Homo sapiens: one gene and its partners. The protein of the gene in region 4 purifies or fractionates together with the protein of the main gene of each other region. This does not show direct contact. Each region holds a gene or a part of one and is shown on either strand. Other genes may lie near its edges. The genes, in order: ZNF609, KANSL3, ZNF608, RERE, YEATS2, KDM6A and PHF20.

Evidence for each region.
Region 1: the proteins of RERE (region 4) and ZNF609 purify together in Homo sapiens (affinity purification with mass spectrometry, with the first as the bait; one large-scale study listed by BioGRID). This does not show direct contact.
Region 2: the proteins of RERE (region 4) and KANSL3 purify together in Homo sapiens (affinity purification with mass spectrometry, with the first as the bait; one large-scale study listed by BioGRID). This does not show direct contact.
Region 3: the proteins of RERE (region 4) and ZNF608 purify together in Homo sapiens (affinity purification with mass spectrometry, with the first as the bait; one large-scale study listed by BioGRID). This does not show direct contact.
Region 5: the proteins of RERE (region 4) and YEATS2 purify together in Homo sapiens (affinity purification with mass spectrometry, with the first as the bait; one large-scale study listed by BioGRID). This does not show direct contact.
Region 6: the proteins of RERE (region 4) and KDM6A purify together in Homo sapiens (affinity purification with mass spectrometry, with the first as the bait; one large-scale study listed by BioGRID). This does not show direct contact.
Region 7: the proteins of RERE (region 4) and PHF20 purify together in Homo sapiens (affinity purification with mass spectrometry, with the first as the bait; one large-scale study listed by BioGRID). This does not show direct contact.

Annotation. Positions count from the first base shown.
Region 1 is NC_000015.10:64,677,078-64,680,577, forward strand, and holds part of ZNF609 (zinc finger protein 609), read left to right. Parts: intron 1-1,038; coding exon 1,039-1,405; intron 1,406-3,107; coding exon 3,108-3,283; intron 3,284-3,500. UniProt on the Homo sapiens protein: Transcription factor, which activates RAG1, and possibly RAG2, transcription. Through the regulation of RAG1/2 expression, may regulate thymocyte maturation.
Region 2 is NC_000002.12:96,628,313-96,631,812, reverse strand, and holds part of KANSL3 (KAT8 regulatory NSL complex subunit 3), read left to right. Parts: intron 1-269; exon of another isoform or gene 270-330; coding exon 331-501; intron 502-3,500. UniProt on the Homo sapiens protein: Non-catalytic component of the NSL histone acetyltransferase complex, a multiprotein complex that mediates histone H4 acetylation at 'Lys-5'- and 'Lys-8' (H4K5ac and H4K8ac) at transcription start sites and promotes transcription initiation.
Region 3 is NC_000005.10:124,638,640-124,642,139, reverse strand, and holds part of ZNF608 (zinc finger protein 608), read left to right. Parts: intron 1-734; coding exon 735-888; intron 889-2,925; coding exon 2,926-3,007; exon of another isoform or gene 3,008-3,012; intron 3,013-3,316; coding exon of another isoform or gene 3,317-3,320; exon of another isoform or gene 3,321-3,358; intron 3,359-3,500. UniProt on the Homo sapiens protein: Transcription factor, which represses ZNF609 transcription.
Region 4 is NC_000001.11:8,657,141-8,660,640, reverse strand, and holds part of RERE (arginine-glutamic acid dipeptide repeats protein), read left to right. Parts: intron 1-3,500. UniProt on the Homo sapiens protein: Plays a role as a transcriptional repressor during development. May play a role in the control of cell survival. Overexpression of RERE recruits BAX to the nucleus particularly to POD and triggers caspase-3 activation, leading to cell death.
Region 5 is NC_000003.12:183,770,797-183,774,296, forward strand, and holds part of YEATS2 (YEATS domain-containing protein 2), read left to right. Parts: intron 1-1,508; coding exon 1,509-1,767; intron 1,768-2,836; coding exon 2,837-2,998; intron 2,999-3,500. UniProt on the Homo sapiens protein: Chromatin reader component of the ATAC complex, a complex with histone acetyltransferase activity on histones H3 and H4. YEATS2 specifically recognizes and binds histone H3 crotonylated at 'Lys-27' (H3K27cr).
Region 6 is NC_000023.11:45,107,188-45,110,233, forward strand, and holds part of KDM6A (lysine-specific demethylase 6A), read left to right. Parts: intron 1-222; coding exon 223-349; intron 350-2,891; coding exon 2,892-3,046. UniProt on the Homo sapiens protein: Histone demethylase that specifically demethylates 'Lys-27' of histone H3, thereby playing a central role in histone code. Demethylates trimethylated and dimethylated but not monomethylated H3 'Lys-27'.
Region 7 is NC_000020.11:35,946,515-35,950,014, forward strand, and holds part of PHF20 (PHD finger protein 20), read left to right. Parts: intron 1-970; coding exon 971-1,113; 3' UTR 1,114-3,500. UniProt on the Homo sapiens protein: Methyllysine-binding protein, component of the MOF histone acetyltransferase protein complex.

The DNA of each region.
Region 1 (3,500 bases), on a different chromosome or scaffold from region 4:
ATAGAGACCAGAGTCCCTCTGTGTTGCCCAGGCTGGAATGCAATGATGCAGTCATAGCTCACTGCAATTTCCAACTCCTAGGCTCAAGCAGTCCTCCTGCCTCAGCCTCCCAATTAACCAGGACTACAGATGCATGCCACCACACCCAGATGATGTTTTAATTTTTTGTAGAGAGGGGTCTCACTATGTTGCCCAGGCTGGTCTTGAACTCCTGGCCTCAAGCAATCCTCGCGCCTCAGCCTCCCAAAGCACAGGGATTCATATTAATGTTTTTTAAAAAGCACTTTTATATCCATAGCAGGTGTTTTTTCCATTTGACAGGAAAGGCCCAGACAAGTTAGCTTAATTTGTCTGGGGTTACTTGAGACCTCACTAGCAGAGCCAGGATTAGAACCCAGGTATCTCGATTCCTTGTCCGTGTTTCCTCCACTGTTTGGTTCCTATGAAATGAGTTATTGATGGTCTCTCTATTTTTTAGAGTAGGTCCAAAGTATACTCAGTTACTGAGTTTCTTTAACAAGGATTTTATAGGTTGAGTTAGAACTAGGAACTTGGAATCTCATATCTTGCTCTGCTCATGAGACTTAGAATGTCTTCCCTTCCCTCTTGGTATAATAGTTATGCTTCCCTCCCTCCTCTGATCTGAGTGTCACTTATAAGCTTTCCAGTCCCTGAGCGTGCTCTGAAAAAGTGAAACAATCTAAACATATTGGAAGGGGCAGCCTCTCCTATTTCAGTCGTTTTCCCAGAATGCTTGTTCTTACCTAGAAAACATCCACTGATGCATGGATGGATTTTCCTTTTCTCCCCCTGCCCCATCTTGTTCCCTGTGGGTGGGTGCAGAGGTGGGGGCGGGGGCTTTTTAACCAAAAGGGAGCAGAGTTGGATTATAAACAAGATCAGTAGAGGCCAAAATCCTACTCTGCCCCAGGTGTCTAGTACTAATTATCTGCTCTGGTGGTTCTACTGGGACCTTGGGCTTGAAGTATATCTGTCTTATCTGTACAACACCCAGTCGTTGTTCTGTGATTGTTGTAGGAGGCAGAGCCCCGGATGTGGACATATGTTTATCCTGCCAAGTACTCAGACATCAAGTCAGAGGATGAGCGGTGGAAGGAGGAGCGGGACCGCAAATTGAAGGAGGAAAGGAGTCGGAGTAAGGACTCTGTCCCCAAGGAAGATGGGAAGGAAAGCACAAGTAGTGACTGCAAGCTGCCCACGTCAGAGGAGTCTCGCCTTGGGAGCAAGGAGCCCCGGCCAAGTGTCCATGTGCCTGTGTCCTCCCCACTTACCCAGCACCAGTCCTACATCCCCTACATGCACGGCTATTCCTACAGTCAGTCCTACGACCCCAACCACCCCAGCTACCGGAGCATGCCTGCTGTGATGATGCAGAACTACCCAGGTACAGCACCAAGTGCCAGCACTATTCCATTCACTGGAAGGGGGAATGAAGCACAGATTTCACATCCAGAGTTTTCTTGCTCAGCCCCAAGGCATATTGAGGCTCGCTTAGATGACGGACCTTTTTTCACTGAGTCATTCTGTGAGGTGGCCACCATAACCCATAGTTCCTTGAATGACCCATAATGATAGTCTGTGTGACTACCTCTCTCTCCCTTGCTCCAGCTCAAGGATTGTCTCTGTAGTCAGTTTTCATTGCTAACTAAAGGTAAAACTCCTTCTCTGTCACTGCTGTCTCCCCTCAGCTGGAATTTGTAAACCATATACTCCACGTTTTGCAGTGTGCTAGGCACTGTGGGAGGTACAAAAGAAGTAGAGCCATTGAGTTCCTTCCACTCCCGGAGCTTACAGCTTAATCATAGTGGAGAGACACAAAGAACAAATAAAATGCAAACCATAACAATGCATGGATTCAGTTGCCAGATCATGTTCACCTGTCAAGTAAGAAGAGCCATCTGAAGTCAGACTGGGGGGAGGTCCTGCTAGATTCAGCTTGGAAAAGACAAGCTCTTTATAGTGTTTAAATGTTTTTTGTTTGTTTGTTTTTTGAGACGGAATTTCACTCTTGTTGCACAGGCTAGAGTGCAGTGGCGTGATCTCGGCTCACCACAGCCTCCACCTCCTGGGTTCAAACGATTCTCCTGCCTCAGCTTCCCAAGTAGCTAGGATTACAGGCATGTGCCACCACTCCTGGCTAATTTTGTATTTTTAGTAGAGACGGTGTTCTTCCGTGTTGGTCAGGCTGGTCTTGAACTCCCGACCTCAGGTGATCCGGCTGCCTTGGCCTCCCAAAGTGCTGAGATACAGGCATGAGCCACCGCTCCGGCCTTAAATGTTTTTTAACTTGTTAGAAGAAAATGCTCTTATTTAACTCTACTCGTTTTGTTGCCCAAAGAACCATGTGGGGTGCTTCTGGGGTGGAAGGGCACTGCTTTAGCCTCACTCCTTAGAGCCTCCAGCTTCCTACAGCAGCCTAAATAGTCTCAACATTCTGGTGACATTATTATAAAGCACACTCTAAATAGAAATAAGCTTTTCAAACAGAAATAGGAAATTTCTTACCCTTGAGGTGTTCCTTTATCCCTGTCACTCACACCCATCAATATAAAAATCATAGTTGCATTTGTTGAGTGCTCGCCCTGAGCCAGGCGCTGTCCTCTGAGATTTATAGACATTATCTTTTTTAATCCTCCCTATCACCTTAAGTAATAAGTATTGATATCTTCATTTTTGATGATGAAGAAACTGAAGCTCAAAACAGTTATTTATTTGCTCAAGGTTACCAAGCTAGTAAGTCTCAGAGTAAGGTTTTGAGCCCAAGGCTCTGACTCCAGATAAGTGTGATCTTTCCACTTTATCATATCACTTCTCCAAGATGAATCTGAGACCAGTTCAAAGAACAGTATCAGATCTATGGAAGTTGGAAGCAGGAAACAGGGCCATGTTCCTAATATCCCTTAGCTAATTTTTCCTGTAGAGCTCAGTAAAGAAAGGTCAAGCCAACAGTCTCAGCCAAAGACACTATGTTAGAAAATACCTCAGCCTGTGCCTAGGAAAGCTGATGCCCACCCAATCAAGCTCACTAAAGCAGAGTTTCCTCTACCTCTCCCATCTCTTTGACTGTTTGATTTCTCCTTCCACAGGTTCCTACCTGCCTTCCAGCTACTCTTTTTCCCCATATGGCAGCAAGGTCTCAGGTGGTGAAGATGCTGACAAGGCACGAGCCAGCCCCAGTGTGACTTGTAAATCCAGCTCAGAGTCCAAAGCCCTGGACATCTTGCAGCAGCATGCCAGTCACTACAAGAGCAAGTCTCCCACGGTAAGAAAAGTACAGTGATGCTGGCTGTTACCCAAAGACTAGTAAGGCCAGATCCAGGGTCTGGGAGAAGGTGGGCAAGTTCAGGTCCTGACCACAGTGCAGCTTGGCTGACTTGACACTGGCAGCCCCCAGGGCATCTTCTTTATTCTTAGGTATCTTGCACTTTTAGGGGTCATAAGGTGGCACCCTGGGCATCTCACTTGTGTGTGTGTGTGTG
Region 2 (3,500 bases), on a different chromosome or scaffold from region 4:
GGCTTCCCAAAGTGGTGGTATTACAGGTGTGAGCCAGTGCACCTGGCCCATATTTATCTTAAAAAAAAAATAGATGTTTATCATTTTTTATATAGACTCATTGAAAAAATGACTTTGTGTTCTTCCAGTACATACCATCATGTCTGAGAGGGCAGAGATCTAGACAAGTGTGGGAAAGATGACTTTGGATCAAAATTTTCTTGTGAATATAATGTGCTTATGCGTAATTTAAAGCTGACTGTATTAAAGATACATTTTTTGTCAACCAGATGATTGTTAAATACCTGTGAAGTATGTGTGGCCCGGTCCTATTTCCTCACCTGTTTACAGTGAATCAGACGTCCCAATAGATGTGGAGACGGTCACATCAACGCCTATGCCACTCTATGACAATCAGAAGGCACGCAGCGTGATGAATGAGTGTGAACGGCATGTCATCTTTGCCAGGACTGATGCAGATGCCCCTCCTCCACCAGAGGACTGGGAGGAGCATGTCAACAGGTAGGCTGCTCATCAGGAGGATGATCACTGCCCTGTAATTATTTTGTATCATCTTCATTGAAATAACACTTATTAGGACCTTATTTCATTTGCAGCAACACAAGTCAGAGTGTTCTCCAAAGTCTCACATTATAACTCTCAGTTCACCATGCTGTGTGTGAGCTCCTTGAGAGTAGGGCTTACATCTCAGCCATCTTTGCATACTTCACACTAGGACGTTGTCTGGCACACAGTAGGCATATAATGTTTGTTGAATAAATAAGTGAATTAAATTTGATACATATGACTAGCTCTGTAGTAGCTTCTGTTGTATAAGTTATGATATAGGGGTTACCCAAACTGCAAAAAAATGAAATGTACATTTGTAAGATATTGTGTTTAAATGGTTTATAACTAGGATGATGGAAGTTGTGAAGTCACATGAAAAGCTAACAGATGTTTGAGTGGCTTTTAAAAATAGATTTGCAGGCTATGGAGGGCACACTGAAGCCTATTTTCACGAGTATACTGGCTAGTTTTGTTCCCAAGCTTTCTACTGCCCCCAGGGGACTCAGCACTCCTCTCCTGGTTATTTGTCCCTGTTCATTTGGTAAACATTTACCTAATTACATAACAGCTTTTTGGGGATATTATTTACATACCATACAATTCAGCTATTTAATATGTACAGTCATTGGTTTTTAGTATAGTCAGAGTTGTATATTCATCACCACTATCAATTTGATAAACATTTTCATCATCCTAAAAAGAAACCTCTTACCCATAAACAGTTACTTCCCGTTTCCTCCCAGCTTCTCTGGTCCCTAGGAAGCACTAATTGACTTTTGTCTTTATAGATTTGCCTATTCTGGACATTTCATATAAATGGAATCATGCAATATGTGGTCTTTTCCTACTGGCTTCTTTCACCCAGCATGATGTTTTCAAGGTTTATCCATGTGGTTGCGTGTATCAGCACTTCATGCTTTTTATTGCCAAATGACATTACATTGTATGGATAGCCCACATTTTATTTATTCATTAATCAGTTGATAGATATTTAGATTGTTTTCATTTTTTGGCAATTGTGAATAATGCTATTATGAACATTTGCATACAAGTTTTTGTGTGGATCTAAGTTTTTAATTCTCTTAGTTATATACCTGGGAGTGGACTTGTTGGGTCATATGATAACTCTGTATTTAACCTTTGAGGAATTGCCAGACTGTTTTCCAAAGTGGCTGTACCATTTTACATTCCTACCAGCAGTGTATGAGAGTTCTAGTTTCTCCATATCCTTGCCAACACTTACTGATTTTCTTCTTTTTTAAAAAAATTATAACCATTCTACTGCGTGTAAAGTGGCATCTCATTGTGGTTTCAACTTATATTTTGTTGATGGCTTTTTGTCTGTGTATCCATATATCTACTATATATATAAGGAAATGTTACTTCTTATATCAGGAGTTGGTAGGTGGTAACTTTCCATAATTTTGGAGAACCCTTATTTTATAATAGAGAGAAAGAGGGGTAGAAAGTTTGAGGTGATTGACATGACTTCTGAAGCTGGTTGGAAGTTGGGAATGAGATTGAACAGGTGTGCTTGTGTGATCAAAACAGCAGCTGTTGAGGGAGGAGCAGTTCTGCACCTTGGTTGAAAAAGCTTGTGAAGAAGTTGGTTGGGGTCTTGCATTGGAATTAATTTAGTGCCTTAAGAAGCTCTTTTCTCACGCCTGTAATCCCAGTACTTTGGGAGGTTGAGGCGGGTGGATCACCTGAGGTCGGGAGTTCAAGACCAGCCTGACCAACATGGAGAAACTCTGTCTCTGCTAAAAATACAAAATTAGCTGGGTGTGGTGGCGCATGCCTGTAATCCCAGCTACTCGGGAGGCTGAGGCAGGAGAATCACTTGAACCTGGGAGGCGGAGGTTGTGGTGAGCCGAGATCGTGCCATTGCACTCCAGTCTGGGCACCAAGAGTGAAACACCATCTCAAAAAAAGAAAAAAAAGCTCTTTTGAGCTTCAGATAAAGAAGAAAACTGCTACGAATGAAGATCAACTACTGGAATATTGCTAGAGTCAGTATATTCAGCAAAAGGATTTATCACTATTTTTACAGTTAATAATAAAAAATAACGACGATGGTAATAACAAAAAGGAGCTACCGTTTGTTGAGTGCTTTCTAGGTGCCAGACATTGTATCAATGTCTCTTCAAATGCATTGTCTCTTAATCCTCCCAATGACTCTTGGAGGTATATCCCCCCTTCATCTCTGCTCAACAGGATGAAGAAACTGAGCTCAGGGTGTTTAAGAAACCTTAATTAGGAAGTGATGGAGAAGGATTTTGTTCAAACCAAGCAGCCTGACTCCAGAACCCAGTGTTCTCAACTACCATACCCTCTGCCTTAATTAAGGGCAGTAAGAAGAGATTAAGACCAGTTAGTGGTGGCTGAACAAGGTGGCCTGGTATGGTTATGTATCCCTTTGTGGTATTTTCTACTACCTTGTCCTTTGCAATTTCAGAAAGTACATAGGAGAACTGTGTGATTTTTTTTTTTTTTGTCAGTTTATCCATGGTTATGATTAAGAGGTTTTTGTGGACAATTCATACTTATCAAAGTCATTAGAGACTTAATAATACTATAAATACCAGTTTGTTTCTTTTTTCTTTTTTTTGAGACAGGGTCTCACTCTGTCACCCAGACTGCAGTGCAGTGGCACGATCTCAGCTCACTACAAGCCTTGACCTCCAGGACTCAGGTGATTCTCCCGGGTGGGAACCTTAACCTCCCAAGTAGCTGGGACTACAGGAGTACGTCACCATTTCTTAATTTTTGTAGTTTTTGTAGAGATTGGGTTTCACCATGTTGCCTAGGCTGGTCTCAAACTCCTGGCTCAAGTGGTCTGCCCACCTTTGCCTCCCAAAGTGCTAGGATTATAGGTGTGAGCCACTGCACTTGGCTGAGTTTCTTAATTTATAAGGAGAGATATAACTGCAAAGCATAAGAGACACTGGGGT
Region 3 (3,500 bases), on a different chromosome or scaffold from region 4:
TACCAGAAACTCTATAGAGAAACCAGAAAAGGGGATTTCTGAATCTTTTTCTGAGTCCTCCTTCTTAGTACAAGGATTTCTTTTAAGTGAGAAGTATAACTTTAGTTAAAGGGTGGTTAGGCTGTAAAGGTAGAAAGTCATAGGAAATGAACCATCCTTACCCCAAACTATGGTTTGGGAGGATGGGGCCTTCTCTTTGAGAGTTCAAAAATTGAGAGATTCAAAATGTGGGTGTAGGACAGTGATTTCTTGTGCTTTATATTGGCATATAACTTTAGAGCATGTTTTTTCAGTAGAACAAAATGTATACAGACACGTTTAAAACTGTGAGATATGTTCTCTCCACAAAATACAAGTGTAATTAGAAAACTTGACCTTAAAGATATCTCCAAAACTACTTATTTTGTAAAAGTTGTTTATGGGAAGCAATTGGGTAAATTCTTAACCTGCAATTATGAATGAATATAGAGAGAAATCCTCTTATTTCCGTCATTTCAGGAAAACATTGGTGTCACTTGGTTTACTTTGGGTGGAGTAGTTCTTTTGTGTTGGCTTAATTCCAACTGAAACTAATGCATGTTTTTTGAAATTCTCTTTAGTTACTAAAGAATTGTATCTTTATATTTACTTTTTAATCATTAACACAATATTGTCGAAGGGACAAAGGTGGTTTAGTACTCTTAAAAGTTGATTTTCAGAGCATGAAGGGGGAAAATTTCTCTTTTCTGTTGCAGCCTGTGGAAAAGGCTACAGCTGAGCGGGAACGGGAGGCAGAAAGGGAAAGGGATCGCCACTCCCCCTTCGGCCAGCGGCACCTGCACACGCACCACCACACCCACGTTGGCATGGGTTACCCGCTAATCCCGGGTCAATATGACCCTTTTCAAGGTCAGCAGCTCTATCATTACTGTGTCTTTGTCCATTCTGCTTTGGAAAACAGTTGCTAAAATTGCATTTCACATCTTAAAAATATTGAGCTTTGAGTTCACATTAGCTCTCAGGAGGGTTTTTAACACTTATTTTCTAGTGACACAGCTAAGGCTATTCCCACATCTTTGTATTCTATTGAGACATGAAATGGCTACCACTTAATAATTGTCACCAGTTGATGTTATCGGCAGCTTACTGTTATCTCACAGACTGAGGGCGGTGGCCAGTGTCTGGGGCACTGAATATAACAATCAGAAGATCAGATATCTACTTCAGGAAAATTGTAGAAAAAGGGAGGGATGGTGGGAAGCTTTGGTGAAATTACTTGTTCTGATTTCTGCATGCCTTTTAAGTTGCTCTTTTCCCATGGAAATCATGGGAGTAATGTGATCAGGTTTAACACTTTTATAACCTCATTCGAGGGTTCTTCACAGCCCTTCACTGCTGCGACTTCACTAAATGGGAGAATTGAGAAAGAGAAACATGTTTTAAGCCATAGGATTGATATGAGGGAATCTTCACCTTGTAGTTCATTAGTTGAGCATGTATTATTTGTCCCATCTTTGTCATCTCATAGTAGGTGGGTGGTGGCACCATCTTTACAACTTGCTAGAATACCACAGATTGCATGGCTTTAAACAACAGGAATTTATTTTCTCACAGTTCTGGAGGCTGGAAGTTCAAGATCAGGGTGCCAGTACAGCCAGCGTCTGCTCAGGCCTCTCTTCCTGGCTTGTGTGCAGCTGCTGTCTTGCTGTGCGCTCATATGACCTCTTCTTTGTGCATGAGCTGGTGGGTGGGGAAGGGGCAGGGGGGAGCCCTCGTGTGCTTTCTTATAAGGACACTAATCATGCCCTATTAGGGTCCCACCCATATGACCTGATTTAACCTTAATTACCTCCTTATAAGCCCCATCTCCAAATCTAATCACATTGTGGATTAGAGCTTCAACATATTTTGAGGAGACATAATTTAGTCTATTGCACTTGCCAAGTTGCCTCTTATGCTACTGTGTGAATAGAAAGTAAGATAATATGTTTGAAGGTGTTTCCAAAACTGGGAAGTGATATACAAATGTGAAGGGGTCATTTTTATTTATTCAGGTCTTTTTAGTTGATGTCATCTAGTAGTGTTAAAAGAGAGCTTTCCTATTTCTTAAACAATTTGTATTGAGTGTAATAAGAACTTGGAAGAGAAAGAGGTTTTATTTCTAGTCTAACACATTATATCTATATATAAATAAAGTATATATGAGAAGAAAACAATTGTCTCTTTTAAGATAATATTATTGTTATTGTACTGTCTTAAGTTACCTCTGGGAAAAGAAAATATATCCAAATAAAAGACCTAGAAGGAGACAGTAATCTTCCCTAGGTTTGCATTTGTTTACTCTATTTTTCCCCAGGACTGTCTTCTATAGAATTTAAAAGAATTCTCTGTTAGGCAACATCATGCCATTTGGAGCTATTACAGTCTCTGACTGCTACCTTTGTCTTGCAGGGTGAAAGTTAAGAGCATTTCTAAGTTTGATTTACTGATTCTGTGTATCTTATGGGATGCATTGTGTTCAGTCACTGGGGAAAATGTTAAAGTGATAACAATTATTATGAAAGTATTGTATTCTAGGCAAATAGCATGCCGCTTCTGTAATTCACTGTGACTTTTGATTCCTGTTGTTACCTGGTATCTGTTATTTCTCCTGAGCTTCCTATTCAGGGAATGCATGCAAACCATTTAGCACCATGCAGAGCCGGAGAGATGGAATGCTGTATCTCCTTCGAATAGCTATTAAGAAAACTGCAGAGTATTCAAGAAAGGATAGATAGCAGATAGACCAAATGGTTTGTACTGTGTCCTTGCTGCATGAAACAGTTCATGTGTGTGTTTAGGAGAGGACACCATGCTGCTACTAGGTCTGCGGCCCTTCTCCACTGGGCCTGTATCTACTCTTATCCTTCTAAAGATCACAGACACTCTACATTTTTTCCCCATTAGGCTTGACCTCTGCTGCCCTTGTTGCCTCTCAGCAGGTGGCTGCCCAGGCATCTGCATCTGGAATGTTTCCTGGACAAAGAAGGTAAATATCCTCTACATTTTTAATTAGTTGTAGATAGAAATATCTTAATGGTTGGGAGGAAGCAAGTACAGGATTTTTAGACCAAAAACTTAACTCCTTGGGTTTTATATCATTGTAATGAATGTGTTTATTATGCCAATATAAGTTGCTTCACATGCAACTTAAATTCCATGAACCTCATTCTGTAAGGGTTACATAGATTAGTAATTAACTGATTAGTTTTTTAGACAGTTGAAATTTTCTTGGGTTATCCTTACGGCATTTCTAAAATAATTCACCATGACTCCCTTTGTTTTATTATGTTTAAAGATAAAGTCGCAAATGGAGACATTTATTTTCATAATGCTAAAGGTAATGTTTGTTCTTTGATATTTTAAATTATTCCCTAAGTTTTATGAAGGAAAATGATTTAAAGGAATTAAATTATTAATATTATAAAATTAATATTTTTCACAATGTATATCATTACTTTATGTTTATTCACTTTCTCTGG
Region 4 (3,500 bases):
AGATCCTGGCAGCACAGGCAGCAGGAGTTCCTGTGCAAGCCAGATAGGGTTGAGCTCTGAGACAGCTGCACTGGAATCCTACTTCGTGCCCATTGGCTGCGTGGCCTTGTGCAGATGATCTCTTCTGAGTTCTGTAGACTGTAAAGCGAGGATGACAACTTCTGTCCAGTTCACTTCATGAGTTGGAAGAATCAAATGAGGGACTTGCTCTGTAAACCTCATGGTGCTATAATAAAGATGCTGTTGTTGTATCGTCTACTTTGTAGATCATTTCTAGCAAATTGAAGTGACAACTCTCCTTCTCAGTGCCATCTGGTTCCTCTCTGGGTCCCTTTCTTTATCTGTCACATCATTGGTATGTGTTGATCACTGTACACTAAGGCGCAGAAGAATTATAATTCATATGCTAAACATAGAGGAAAAAAATATATTCCCATTGAGCTGTATTTTAGAGCCAAATGTAAATGGTAATTGGATTGACTTTTGCTTAGATTATTAATGTTCATACTTATCTGAAAGTTGGTTATATAAATATGTCATTAATATATAAATGATATGGTATTAATTATTCATATAATTTAATATATTAATATAACATGCAGATTATGTAATATATAAATAGAGCCAACTTTCAGATAAATCAGAACATTGATTTTATAAATATACACATATACTGGATTTTGTTTTATAGACATCTTTATTGTTTCTTGAATTTTTAACTTTCTTGCTCACTTTTGGCAGAAACAACTCTATTTTCTTTGTAAATAGAAACAGTGTATGATTTTGTAGTGAGTAGTGTTGAATGTACAATTTGGACTTACTATTTTTTCTCTTTGAGTGCTGAAAAAATGTTTTCTACACAGTTTTCTGGAGCAGTTATCTTGTTAACCCCAGGGAGAATGATTTTTTTTCTTAAAGTTATCAGAAGTGTTTCTGTCTGAAACTGCAGTTGCAGTGGAGAGGTTTTCAGCCCAAGCTTTTCATTCTTTTTGGACTCCTAGTAGACACTGATGAGTTTTCAGGGTCAAAGAGGAACATTTTAACAATGGTGTTAGCTGATCGTTTTTTGTTTGTTTTTTATTTTGAGACGGAGTCTCGCTTTGTCTCCCAGGCTGGAGTGCCATGGCACAATCTTGGCTCATTGCAACCTCCGCTTCCTGGGTTCATACGATTCTCCTGCCTCAGCCTCCCGAGTAGGTGGGATTACAGGCACCCATCACTGCACCCAGCTAATTTTTGTATTTTTAGTAGAGACAGGGTTTCGCCATCTTGGCCAGGATGGCTTCGAACGCCTGACCTCAGGTGATCCGCCCGCTTCAGCCTCCCAAAGTGCTGGGATGACAGGCATGAGCCACCGCCCCTGGCCTGATAGTTTTCTTTCTTTCATGATTGGCTCGTTCATGCTCTAAACTTAAGACTTGTCGAGGAAGTAGTAGGTCTCTGTATTTTCAGTTGCTAGCACTAGTAGCCTACCAGGACTTGGGAGTTTATGACTATCTGTTTAGCAGACGGTTCATCTGGGCAAAACTTTTGTAGGCAGTGATAATTTTTCCTTTTCTTGAAATATGTTTAGAAAATGGAAATCCTGTTTGAAACAGCATGTTTCTTACATAGAAGGAAGTAATCTAGTTTTGTGCTACATGCGTTCCTTCTTCTAATGTAGCTTATGATGCATGATTGCTCCTTCATCACCTATCTTCCAAAGACTAAATACTTTCTATTTTGCTGAATGTCTAAGGATATTTGAGATGCTTATGAGGAGGTCTTTTCTGGTAAGAGGTTTGACCTAAGAGCGCTGCAGAGAATATATGGTAATTGTTATGGTTTTAGCATGACCAAAGAGAATTTTCTTTTTTCTTTCTTTCTTTCTTTCTTTTTTTTTTTTGAGATGGAGTCTCTCTCGTTGCCCAGGCTGGAGTGCAGTGGCACGATCTCAGCTCACTGCAACCTCTGCCACCTGGGTTCAAGCGGTTCTCCTAACTCAGCCTCCCGAGTAGCTGGGACTACAGGTGTCCACCACCACGCTCGGCTAATTTTTTGTATTTTTAGTAGAGATGGGGTTTCACCGTGTTAGCCAGGATGGTCTCGACCTCCTGACCTCGTGATCTGCCCACCTCGGCCTCCCAAAGTGCTGGGATTACAGGTATGAGCCACCATGCCTGGCTGACCAAAGAGAATTTTCTCTGCATCTGAAGCATGTAACTGCAAACTGATTTGTTTGTGGTTGTCAAGTAAAGAGGACCAATCTTTTGTTTGTTTATATGCACTGTTTCCTTTCTCACCCTAGTTGCATGAGAAACAGAAGCTTCTTAGATTGATCGGTTGCCTCCTTTTGTTGCATTTGAGCATTGAGAACAAGGACCATGAGTTTTCTCCTCCATTGTGGTTTTAGTTCTAACACTTGGCACATAGTATTTAGTAAAGATTTGTTGAATAAGTGAGATAGGGTATTGGGGAAGATCATAAGAAAAACAAAAGATAAATTATTTATTTATAAATTTATTGTTAGGTCTATTCCAAAACTGACTTAGAAAGACAAAATTTTTTCCTGCTATAAAATATCTGTAAGAACTGTGTTAGCTTGGAGTTTGGGATTCACTTTTCCCATTGCAGACGCTTAAAAACCTCAAGACTTTTCTTGTTGGGTTTCTTTTTGGGGAGTACTTTATTAGGGATACCATTTATAGTAGAAATCTGGAAGACTGTAAAAACCACTTAATATTCCCGAAAGATGGAAGCTTGTTTCTGGAAGCTGTTATGTTTTGTTAAGGCAGAGACAATACATTTTCTTTTCTTTATTGAGATGGAGTCTTTTGCCCAGACTGGAGTGCAGTGGTGTGATCTCGGCTCACTGTAACCTCTGCCTCCTAGGTTCAAGCGATTCTCCTGCCTCAGCCTCCCAAGTAGCTGGGACTATAGGCGTGTGCCACTGTGCCCAGCTACTTTTTGTGTGTTTAGTAGAGACAGAGTTTCACCACGTTGGCCAGGCTGGTCTCGAACTTCTGACCTCACGTGATCCCCCTGCCTTGGCCTCCCAAAGTGCTGTGATTACAGGTGTGAGCCACCACGCCTGGCCAGTAATACATCTTTAGAGAGATCATTTTCCTTGGAACATAACTGAAAATGGTAGGATGAAAAGATGTGTAAAATGTAACTGAAGGTGGAAAAATCTTGCTCTGAAGCTCTCACTTTCGTTTGAGTTAAATATTATTTTTATTCTTGAAGGAAGTTCTGGGAGTTTGTAGAAGTAGCCAGAAAATATCTTTAGAATATAGTGCTCTATGCGATATCCTGAGACTTTTTTTTCTTTTCTTCTTCTTTTTTTTTTTTTTTTGAGACGGAGTCTCTCGCTCTGTCGCCCAGGCTGAAGTGCAGTGGCACAATCTCGGCTCACTACAAGCTCCGTCTCCTGGGTTCACGCCATTCTCCTGCCTCAGACTCCTGAGTAGCCGGGACTACAGGCGCCCGCCACCACACCCAGCTAATTTTTGTTGTATTTT
Region 5 (3,500 bases), on a different chromosome or scaffold from region 4:
TTTCCAGTCTGTTTACACTAATATATCACTAATATATATAATTCTAGTTCATTTATTTTTAGTATGACCTTTCGTTGTCTGTTTTATGCCACAGTTTGTCCATTCCTCTATCTGTAGACGTTAAGAATGTTGTTGCATGCTGCAGACATTAAGGTTGCTAACAGTTTTTGGTAAAAATAATGCTATGTTGGGCATTGTTGTATATGTTCCCTTGAACGCATGTATGTTTCTCTAGGATATATTCCTAAAAACAATTCCTACTATACGGGGGTATGTGAATTTTCAGTTTTAGCAGATGGGCCAGTGCCTCTCTGGAATGGCTGTCCAAATTTATCTTCCTACCAACAGTGAGCACAAATTCCTATTTTCCCCACAGCCTCTAGTAACTTCTTGGTTTTAAACTCTTTTTCCCCCAATCTGATGGGTGAACAGCACTTCCTATTTTGTCTTTTTTGCCTTAAGAAGGTAGATCATTTGCATTTCTTCCAACCTTGTGGAAGTCTGTTCATCTAGTTTCTGGTGAGAAGTTCTTTTTATGAAATAAGGTGCTGGGAGTGGGAAACACTGCTCCAGTTTGCCATTCATTCAGTGTTTAATTTAACATCCTACTGTTGACTTTGTTTTAAAAACACTCCTGAGTATTTTCTTAAAAGAATTCATTTTACTTTTGGAACTAGATACTTCTAATTTTCATTATTTGGGTACTGGGGTCTTTTTTTTTTTTAATAGTTAAATATTATTCTTGCCTTTTTTTTTTTTTTTTTTTTTTCTTTTCTTAGGGTCTTGCTCTGTCACCCAGGCTGGAGGGCAGTGGTGTGATCACGGCTCAGTGCAGCCTTGAACTCCTAGGCTCAAGGGATCCTCCCCTGCCTCAGCCTCCTGAATAGCTGGGACTACAGATGTGTGCCACTGTACTGGCTAATTTTTTTTTTTTTTTTTTTTTTTTTTTAGACAGAGTCTCACTCTGTCACCCAGGCTGGAGTGCAGTGGCATGATCTTGGCTCACTGCAACCTCCACATCCTAGGTTCAGGGGATTCTCCTACCTCAGCCTCCAGAGTAGCTGGGACTACAGGTGTGTGCCACCATGCCCAGCTAATTTTTGTATTTTTAGTAGAGATTGGATTTCACCATGTTGGCCAGGCTGGTCTCGAACTCCTGACCACAAATGCTCCTCCTGCCTTGGCCTCCCAAAGTGCTGGGATTACAGGCATGAGCCACCACGCCCGGCCAAACTTTTTTCTTTATACTTCTGAATTTCCCAAATTTTCTATTAAAGTAAATTATAAAAAGTAGCTGAGGCAAGACAACAATTGTTAAGCTTCTATTATTGTAATACCCAAGTGTAAGAAATACAGTTGCCGTTCACACCTGTGTAGGTAGCTTTCCTAGATGACTGAATTAGGCTGCATGTATTATGTGCAGGCCTTTGTTTTGCTCTCTGCCAAAACGGTGACTGCTGTTCTAAGAGCTCTCGAAGCACCGTTGGACTCTGCTCTGTTTTGAACAGGTTGTCGGGGTACCAGTTGGGTCTGCTTTACCTTCAACAGTGAAGCAGGCTGTGGCGATCAGTGGTGGCCAGATCCTGGTAGCCAAGGCCAGCTCTTCTGTCTCCAAAGCAGTTGGGCCAAAGCAAGTTGTAACCCAAGGAGTTGCCAAAGCAATTGTGAGTGGAGGTGGAGGAACCATTGTTGCTCAGCCAGTGCAGACCTTAACCAAGGCCCAGGTTACTGCCGCTGGTCCTCAGAAGAGTGGATCCCAGGGTTCAGGTAAAACGGATCATCACTGGGAGCCCTTTCAGCAGAAGCTCTGTCCAAAATTTCCTTTGCTAGTGATTTTATTTGCTATTTGATCTGGTCTAGGAAAGCCTAGTTAGGTTGATGCTGTAAGAAGTGTATTGAAATGTTTGTTCTTTTTTATGGGACATTTTACATAAAGGTCTGTGAGTATTTAGCTTTAAATTTACACACACACACACACACACCCACATACACACACACACACGAACAAATCATTTCTCAGTACTGTGGGGGATTGGTTCCAGGACCCCCTGCTGCAGATAGCAAAATCCACAGATGCTAATCCACAGTCCCCTGTGTAAAATGCTGTACTGTTTACGTATAACCTATGTACATCCTCTGATGTACTTTACTTTATATCATCTCTAGGTTATCTTAATACCTAATAACAATGTAAATAACAATGTAATAACAATGTATATGCTATGTAAATAGTTGTTACACTGTGTTGTTTAAGGAATAATGACAAGAAAAAAGTCTGTACATGTTCAGTACAGATGTACTCATCCTTTTGTCTGCCAAATATATGGATATTTTTTATCTGAGGTAGGTTACATCCATGGATGTGAAATCCACAGATACAGAGGGCCAATGGTACTTGCCAGTTAGGAGCACACATTTGCCCTAACTTTGACTTTAAACAAATGGGGGAAAATATGTAATCCTCCATAGACAGGGTGATTATTTCATTAATCGTCCAAACCACAGTACTTTGGAGAGTAAAAAGAGTCATTATTAATAATTATAGTGGGACAGGTGTAACCTAGAACTGTTCTGGGCAGAACCAGGACGTACGATCATCCTATTATATACAGATATAAAGAGCCTCTGGCAGGCTCTTCTGGTCTATAAATTATTTTTTAATTAGCAAGATATTTAAGAATATCAGTCTTTAAAGCATTGTGCATCTGGGAAACAAACTTTGAATTTATTGCTTGTTAGTGTTCTAAAATAAGAATTTATTGCCTTGTATTTTAATTTTAGAGTGTTGCCCTTAGTTTCAATTTATCTTACAATTTTTTCTCCTTTACCATTTTAGTAATGGCAACGTTGCAGCTACCAGCCACTAATTTGGCCAACTTGGCAAATTTGCCTCCTGGCACTAAACTCTACCTAACTACAAACAGCAAGAACCCTTCAGGAAAAGGAAAACTGCTGCTGATCCCTCAAGGAGCCATCCTGCGAGCTACGAACAATGCTAGTTAGTGAAACCATTGGGTTGAATCATTTGGTTCTTGGTTCTCTATGTGTGTTCATCTTGTCCATCTGAGGGCAGTTCTTACCTGTTTCAGGAAGCATTTCTGTAACTCTGTTGGGTGGTGTAATGGTAGCATTTGCTCAGATGGATTTAACACATACGATAATTTAACTAGAAGTGGGTTTGCTCCTCAGCGTTTGCAATCAGAGATGAATCACTCTGGAGAGAGATGGCTGGTGAGGCTGTTGGGAGAAAGCTGTCTACATGAACCATGAATGAAGTGGTGTCTGAAAATTATCTGGTGATACCTGAGGGAAGATCCATCTACTTATAGAAGCTGGAAGTCTGTTTTTGGGGATAGGTTGGCATAGGATTGGAATCGAGTGTGTCTGTTTGACTTCATTTAGATCAGGGGTCCCCAACCCCTGGGCCGCACAGCAGAAGTTGAGCATGGACGAAGAAGCATTACTGCCTGAGCTCCGCCTCCTGTCAGATCAGCAGTGGC
Region 6 (3,046 bases), on a different chromosome or scaffold from region 4:
TACTTTTCTCAACTTTAAATGTTTTAATATTGTCTTCATCAGGCCTGCTGAGCATTGTCATTTTAAAATCTGAGAATATTTGATAAATTGATGAAAGAAAAATTATGAAGTCATAGACATTAGAATCAAGTCTCTTGGCATTATTTCTAGTTGGTATATCTTTTATGCTAAAAATATTCAATATTCAGTTGCTGGTCACAAATAATTTCTCCCCCACAATAGGTATTGTCTTCTAAGAACTCTGAAGCAATGTCAGACATTGAGGGAAGCTCTCATTGCTGCAGGAAAAGAGATTATATGGCATGGGCGGACAAAAGAAGAACCAGCTCATTACTGTAGCATTTGTGAAGTAAGTAATTGTTTTTATCCACAGTTGTTTTATAAAGCCTCTTCCCTCTCCACTGTTGGTTTCTCTTTATTTTTAAAAAACTTTTTTATACTTTTATGTAATCCAGTTTATAGTAATTAACATTGGATTCAATTTTGTTGCTTAGCCATTATATTAAAATTCAGTGTGATAATAATGATATTTCACTGTGAATTAACCTTAAAAGTATCTACTGCAGAGTCATTTTTGTGGTAGATCTTCAACAGACAATAATCAGCAAATTTAGTCTGAGATTTTAAACTAAGAACAATCTAGATGTACACAGATGCCAATAAACTGGATGTTTGGTGTAACTCTAGGCAGATCGATTATCAGTCCTCTCTGGTGCAATTAACAATACATTTGTCAATCTTGTGTGGCCAAGGCTTGCAAGAGGTGCAGGAACAAAGATGTGGTGCCTCCTATGAAGGAGCTTAAATTCTACTTGGAGCAGACAGATTATAAACAACTAATTGTAATGTACATGAGACTATGATGAATGTGAAGTTGGACTTCCTGTTAATGATAACACTGAGGGGGAAAATGACCTAATTTTTTCTTCTAGTATTGGCATAAGAACTCACAAACGTATTAGCATTTGAGTCCATCCTTGGAAAAAAGAGTATGATATCAAGTAGACTAAAAAAGTGATGAGAATCGGAGGTAGACTGTCATGGGCTATAGGCACAAGAAGAGAACAGGGAAATGAAATGGTTTTAGAAAAGGTTGAATGTGTTCCGATTTGGCTGGAACACAGACTGTGCAAATTCCGCTCATAAGTCTAGGTGGCATTTAATTTATAGCACATCTTGAATGGTTTTAAGGAATTTGATATTCCAAGGTTATTGAAGCCATTAAAAGGTTTTGAGCAGGCAACTAAGGGTAAGTAAGATATGTGTTTCAGGGAGAAAAGTGGTTGGAAAGGACAGCGATATATAAGCTATTGCAGTGGTCTTAAGAGTTATGGGACTGTAAACTAGTTCAACCATTGTGGAAGTCAGTGTGGCGATTCCTCAGGGATCTAGAACTAGAAATACCATTTGACCCAGCCATCCCATTACTGGGTATATACCCAAATGACTATAAATCATGCTGCTATAAAGACACATGCACACGTATGTTTATTGCAGCATTATTCACAATAGCAAAGACTTGGAACCAACCCAAATGTCCAACAATGATAGACTGGATTAAGAAAATGTGGCACATATACACCATGGAATACTATGCAGCCATAAAAAATGATGAGTTCATGTCCTTTGTAGGGACATGGATGAAATTGGAAACCATCATTCTCAGTAAACTATCGCAAGAACAAAAAACCAAACACCGCACATTCTCACTCATAGGTGGGAATTGAACAGTGAGATCACATGGACACAGGAAGGGGAACATCACACTCTGGGGACTGTTGTGGGATGGGGGGAGGGGGGAGGGATAGCACTGGGAGATATACCTAATGCTAGATGATGAGTTAGTGGGTGCAGCGCACCACCATGGCACATGTATACATATGTAACTAACCTGCACAATGTGCACATGTACCCTAAAACTTAAAGTATAATTTAAAAAAATAATAATAATAATAAATAAATAAATAAATAAATAAATAAATAAAGTACCTGTAAAAAAAAAAAAGTTATTTTAAGGCCTAGACTAGAACCTGGCAATGGGAATATTAAAGAAGGGAAAGAATTCAAAAATATTTAGAGGGTAAAATCAGCGAGACACCTCATTAAATGGCAGAAGTGGAAGGACAAGTTGAAGAATGCTCACCAATTTTCTAGCTCAGGTCACTAGGTTTGTATTGCTGCTTGTTGACAGTAATGGATAACATGGTGAACTCTAGGATTGTAGTTAACTGTTAAAAGAAGACATGGGATCATAAGAGTTTTCTGTCATTGAAGAAATTTAAGGATAAGCCAAAGACAGGATGTTGATGGTCCATTTCAAACCTTGAAATTCTGTAATTCTAGCATCAACCTTTATTTGAAATGATAGAATCCATTGATTTTTTTTTTAAATGTCATATGGCCTGACCAAAGTGAGTCATTAGGAGATCAGATAGATTCCAGTTAGGTGTGTTGTTCCTTATCCTACCTGAACCCTAGCAACTCATCAATCTTTCTGTATAAGATAGAGGTATTATTTCTAAAATCATGCTGTACTCATGAATACATAAAAATGATCACTTATGTCTGATTGTATACTAATGTTTTAGATTTAAAAATAGGTTGACCTTTATCAAACTTTTGAACTGGGCTTTGCCAGTGGTTGTCATGAGTATGTCATTCCCTTTGATTATTCCCCTAAATATGCATTACTACCCATGTCTTTGGATTTGGTGCAAAATAAACCTGGTCTGTTAAAGATTCTCAAACACAGCCATGTTTTTCTTACCACCTACTCTTAACCAGAGATCACTGTCCACAATTTCATTCAAGTAGAATTCCATGATTATACTAAAGCAGTACAGTAAATACCACTATCTCTATTGAATACGTTTTTCTCTTGTATAAAACAGGTGGAGGTTTTTGATCTGCTTTTTGTCACTAATGAGAGTAATTCACGAAAGACCTACATAGTACATTGCCAAGATTGTGCACGAAAAACAAGCGGAAACTTGGAAAACTTTGTGGTGCTAGAACAGTACAAAATGGAGGACCTGATGCAAGTCTA
Region 7 (3,500 bases), on a different chromosome or scaffold from region 4:
TCAGGAATTAATATGAAGCAAATCAGAGTTTATGATATACAAATAGACCTTTTCAAGACCCTATAGATTTTCATTTTTCTTGACAGGATGCTAAAACACCAGGCTCTCTGATTTTCAACATGGGAAAGCTTTTTATTTTTTATTTTATTTTATTTTATTTTATTTTATTTATTTTATTTTATTTTATTTTATTATTTTATTTATTTTATTTTTTGAGATGGAGTCTCGCTTTGTCGCCAGGCTGGAGTGCAGTGGCACGATCTCGGCTCACTGCGACCTCCGCCTCCCGGGTTCAAGCAATTCTCCTGCCTCAGCTTCCTGAGTAGCTGGGACTACAGACGGGCACCACCATGCCTGGCTAATTTTTGTATTTTTAGTGGAGATGGGGTTTCACCATGTTGGCCAGGATGGTCTTGATCTCTTGACCTTGTGATCTGCCCGCCTCGACCTCCCAAAGTGCTGGGATTATAGGCATGTGCCACCGCGCCCGGCTGGGAAAGCTTTTTAAAGAGTGAGTGGTAACACTCAGAAAGGTGCTTCCTTCCAAGACTTCTAGACTCTGGTAACAGTAGCCTCTGGCAATGTGTGGCTGTTTAACCAAAACTGAATAAAATTTAAAATTCAGTTCCTCAGTTGCATTAGCCATGTTTCCAGCGCTCAATAGCTGCATAAGGCTAGTGGCTACTGTATTGGATGACACAGACTTGGACCATTGATCATCGCAGAAAGTTCTTTTGGACTGTGCTGCTCTAAAGCATTTGTGTTTTGTCCTGGGAGTACCACTTTGTAGAGCAGGTGTTGACACAGTGCTGGCTGAAATGGCCCTTCCTCCCTTGCCCCATGGAGGCTGAAATGGCCCTTCCTCCCTTGCCCCATGTCTGATGGAATAAGGTGCTGAAATGCTTGCTGATGTTCTTGCAAATCAAGTGTTGGGAGTTCACTAGGTCTCATCTCTCTCTTCTGCCGACAGTGTTGGAGAGCTGGCTGGACTACACTGGGGAACTGGAGCCCCCTGAGCCGCTGGCCAGGCTTCCGCAGCTCAAGCATTGTATCAAGCAGCTGCTGATGGACCTGGGCAAGGTGCAGCAGATCGCCCTCTGCTGCTCAACATGAAACTGGGCACCCAAAACTCATGGGGGCACAATCCTGGGGCACCTGCAGGAGGAGCTTCGCATATTTAAATAAATAAACCTAGCATGCTGAATGCACGTGACACCGACTGACTTCAGGGATCTGGGCCAGGAGTGTGGTGGACATTGGACAAAGAGGCCATTTTGGCTGCGGGAGGACACTCTGATCTCGAAGCCTGCCATAAAGGTAGCAAATAGACTCTTGGGATTCCCCTCTTCTGTGCACATCGTTGAATGAAGAGAGTCTTTTTGCACAAACTTCACTTGAAATTGTGCCACTGATGATAAACGGAATGAGAGCCAAAAAAGTTTAGTTGGAGACAGTTGTAAATTCAATTTGGAGTTTATTTAATTGACTTTTCTATCACGTTGGGGCACATGCCAACTCCCTGGTTTCTTCCTGGCATGGTGTTTGGGCAGCAGGCATCATTTTCCTTTTCTAGCTTCATAGGAATATTGTGAGCTCACCATGCTGTGGAGGTTGGGAAAGAGCAGAGTCTTGGCTGCCCTGCTTTCTCCTTAGGACTCTTCACTTTTCTCACCACATCTCTTGCATGACTTCATGGTACTGGGGACAAGTTTGTATGCCTTCACCCCAGAGCTGGCTGGGTTATGGCTTTTGTAGCAGAGCCCATACAGCCTATGGAAGAACTAGAATCTCACTCACAGTAATAAGAATCTAGGAGGAATTCCAAACCGAAGCAGGCAGGGTCTGGAACCCAAAGGACAGCATTTTCTACCCACTTCTTAATATTGACAGCTTCCCCGTTCTATTTAATGTCCAAAAATGTTTCCCAAAATTTCAAACTCTTTCACTGTAAAGATTTGTTACAAAGAATGTGGTTTGGGGAATTACCTTATTTTATATTGTTGTAAACAAACTTCAAATTCTACATGTGCGACTTTTCTCCTTCCTGAAGGGTGTTTAGTAGTCAGCGTTTTCAGAATTGTTTTGTTACTATACTTTAACATTTTACATTTCCTGTTTGTATTATTTTGTGAGAGCAAGGTGATCATGCTGCTTAAGGTCCAGGTACAACCTATTTGTACCTTTTGAGACAATATTTGTGTTACTTTTGCAGGTTACGGTTCCACATGTAATTGCTATATTTTGTTTTGTTTTTCCTTACTAGGCAAAGTTAAAATGTTCCATGCTTTGAGGAGTGACCCATTTCACTACTTTGTTTTCTTATCACTAAAGGCAAAAATCAAAGCACAGTTGTCCATTAACACTTATAAGTTAATTATGGGTTTATGAGTCTGTAATGTTATATGCTGCAAACATTTACTATGTAAACGTGAAGTAGCCAATAATATCTCAATAGTAGTAACAGTATCTTTAGCGACCTTTGGAATAGTTAAGCACAGGTCATTGTGGACATGAATTCAGGCCTCTGTACTAAAATCTATTTCAGGGAATGTTCTGTCTAGTGATTTGCTCACCATTTGATATATAATGAATTATAGGACAAGTATAAGCTGATCTGCTATAGCTGTCCATCAGAGAGAATACACGTGGCTATAACATCTATAACAAAACGACGATTCCTCTACAAGAGGCTGTTTCTCACTGCTAACGTTGGTGTTTCTGGCGTGGGAAGAAATGCACAGGCGTGCATGGCATGCACGTTCAGACAGCTGCATTGTAAGAGTTCTGTCATGCAGTCTGAAAAGGGAAGAAACAGGATGGCTTTCTGTAGCCACACCTGTGAGGCGTGATGATTGTTGTATTATTAGATTACTGATTTTTCTTTTCTGAAAATACATTTGAGTTTTAATCACATCTGTGGAAGCTGTAACTTTTAAGGTAGTCAATTTCATGTCTTGTTCAACGATGTAAGCAGAAACTGAATTGCCCTAATTTTGCCAACTGGCCATTATTGGGATTATTGTTTAAATTTTTGGTAAAGGAAGTAATCTCCTTTCATTCATTGTGACTTTTGTTCTTAGGGAAGCAGAGAAGACTCCCCAAGTTCTTATAACCTCATTGTGCTTCCCTAATTTAAAGCCATGTTGAGGGGCTCCATTCCCAATTCCTGGGTCAAGGTGAATTAACCCTATGTTGGAGCACTGGAAACCGTTATTTGCAAACATTGCTGTTACCATTTAGAAATATGTGCACTATCAGCTGGGTGCAGTGGCTCACGTCTGTAATCCCAGCACTTTGGGAGGCCGAGGCAGGTGGATCACCTGAGGTCAGGAGTTCGAGACCAGCCTGGCCAACAGGGTGAAACCCCGTCTCTACTAAAAGTACAAAAATTAGCTGGGCGTGGTGGCGGACGCCTGTAATCTCAGCTACTTGGGAGGCTGAAGCAGGAGAGGTGCTGGAACCTGGGAGGCGGAGGTTGAAGTGAGCCGAGATTGCGCTAT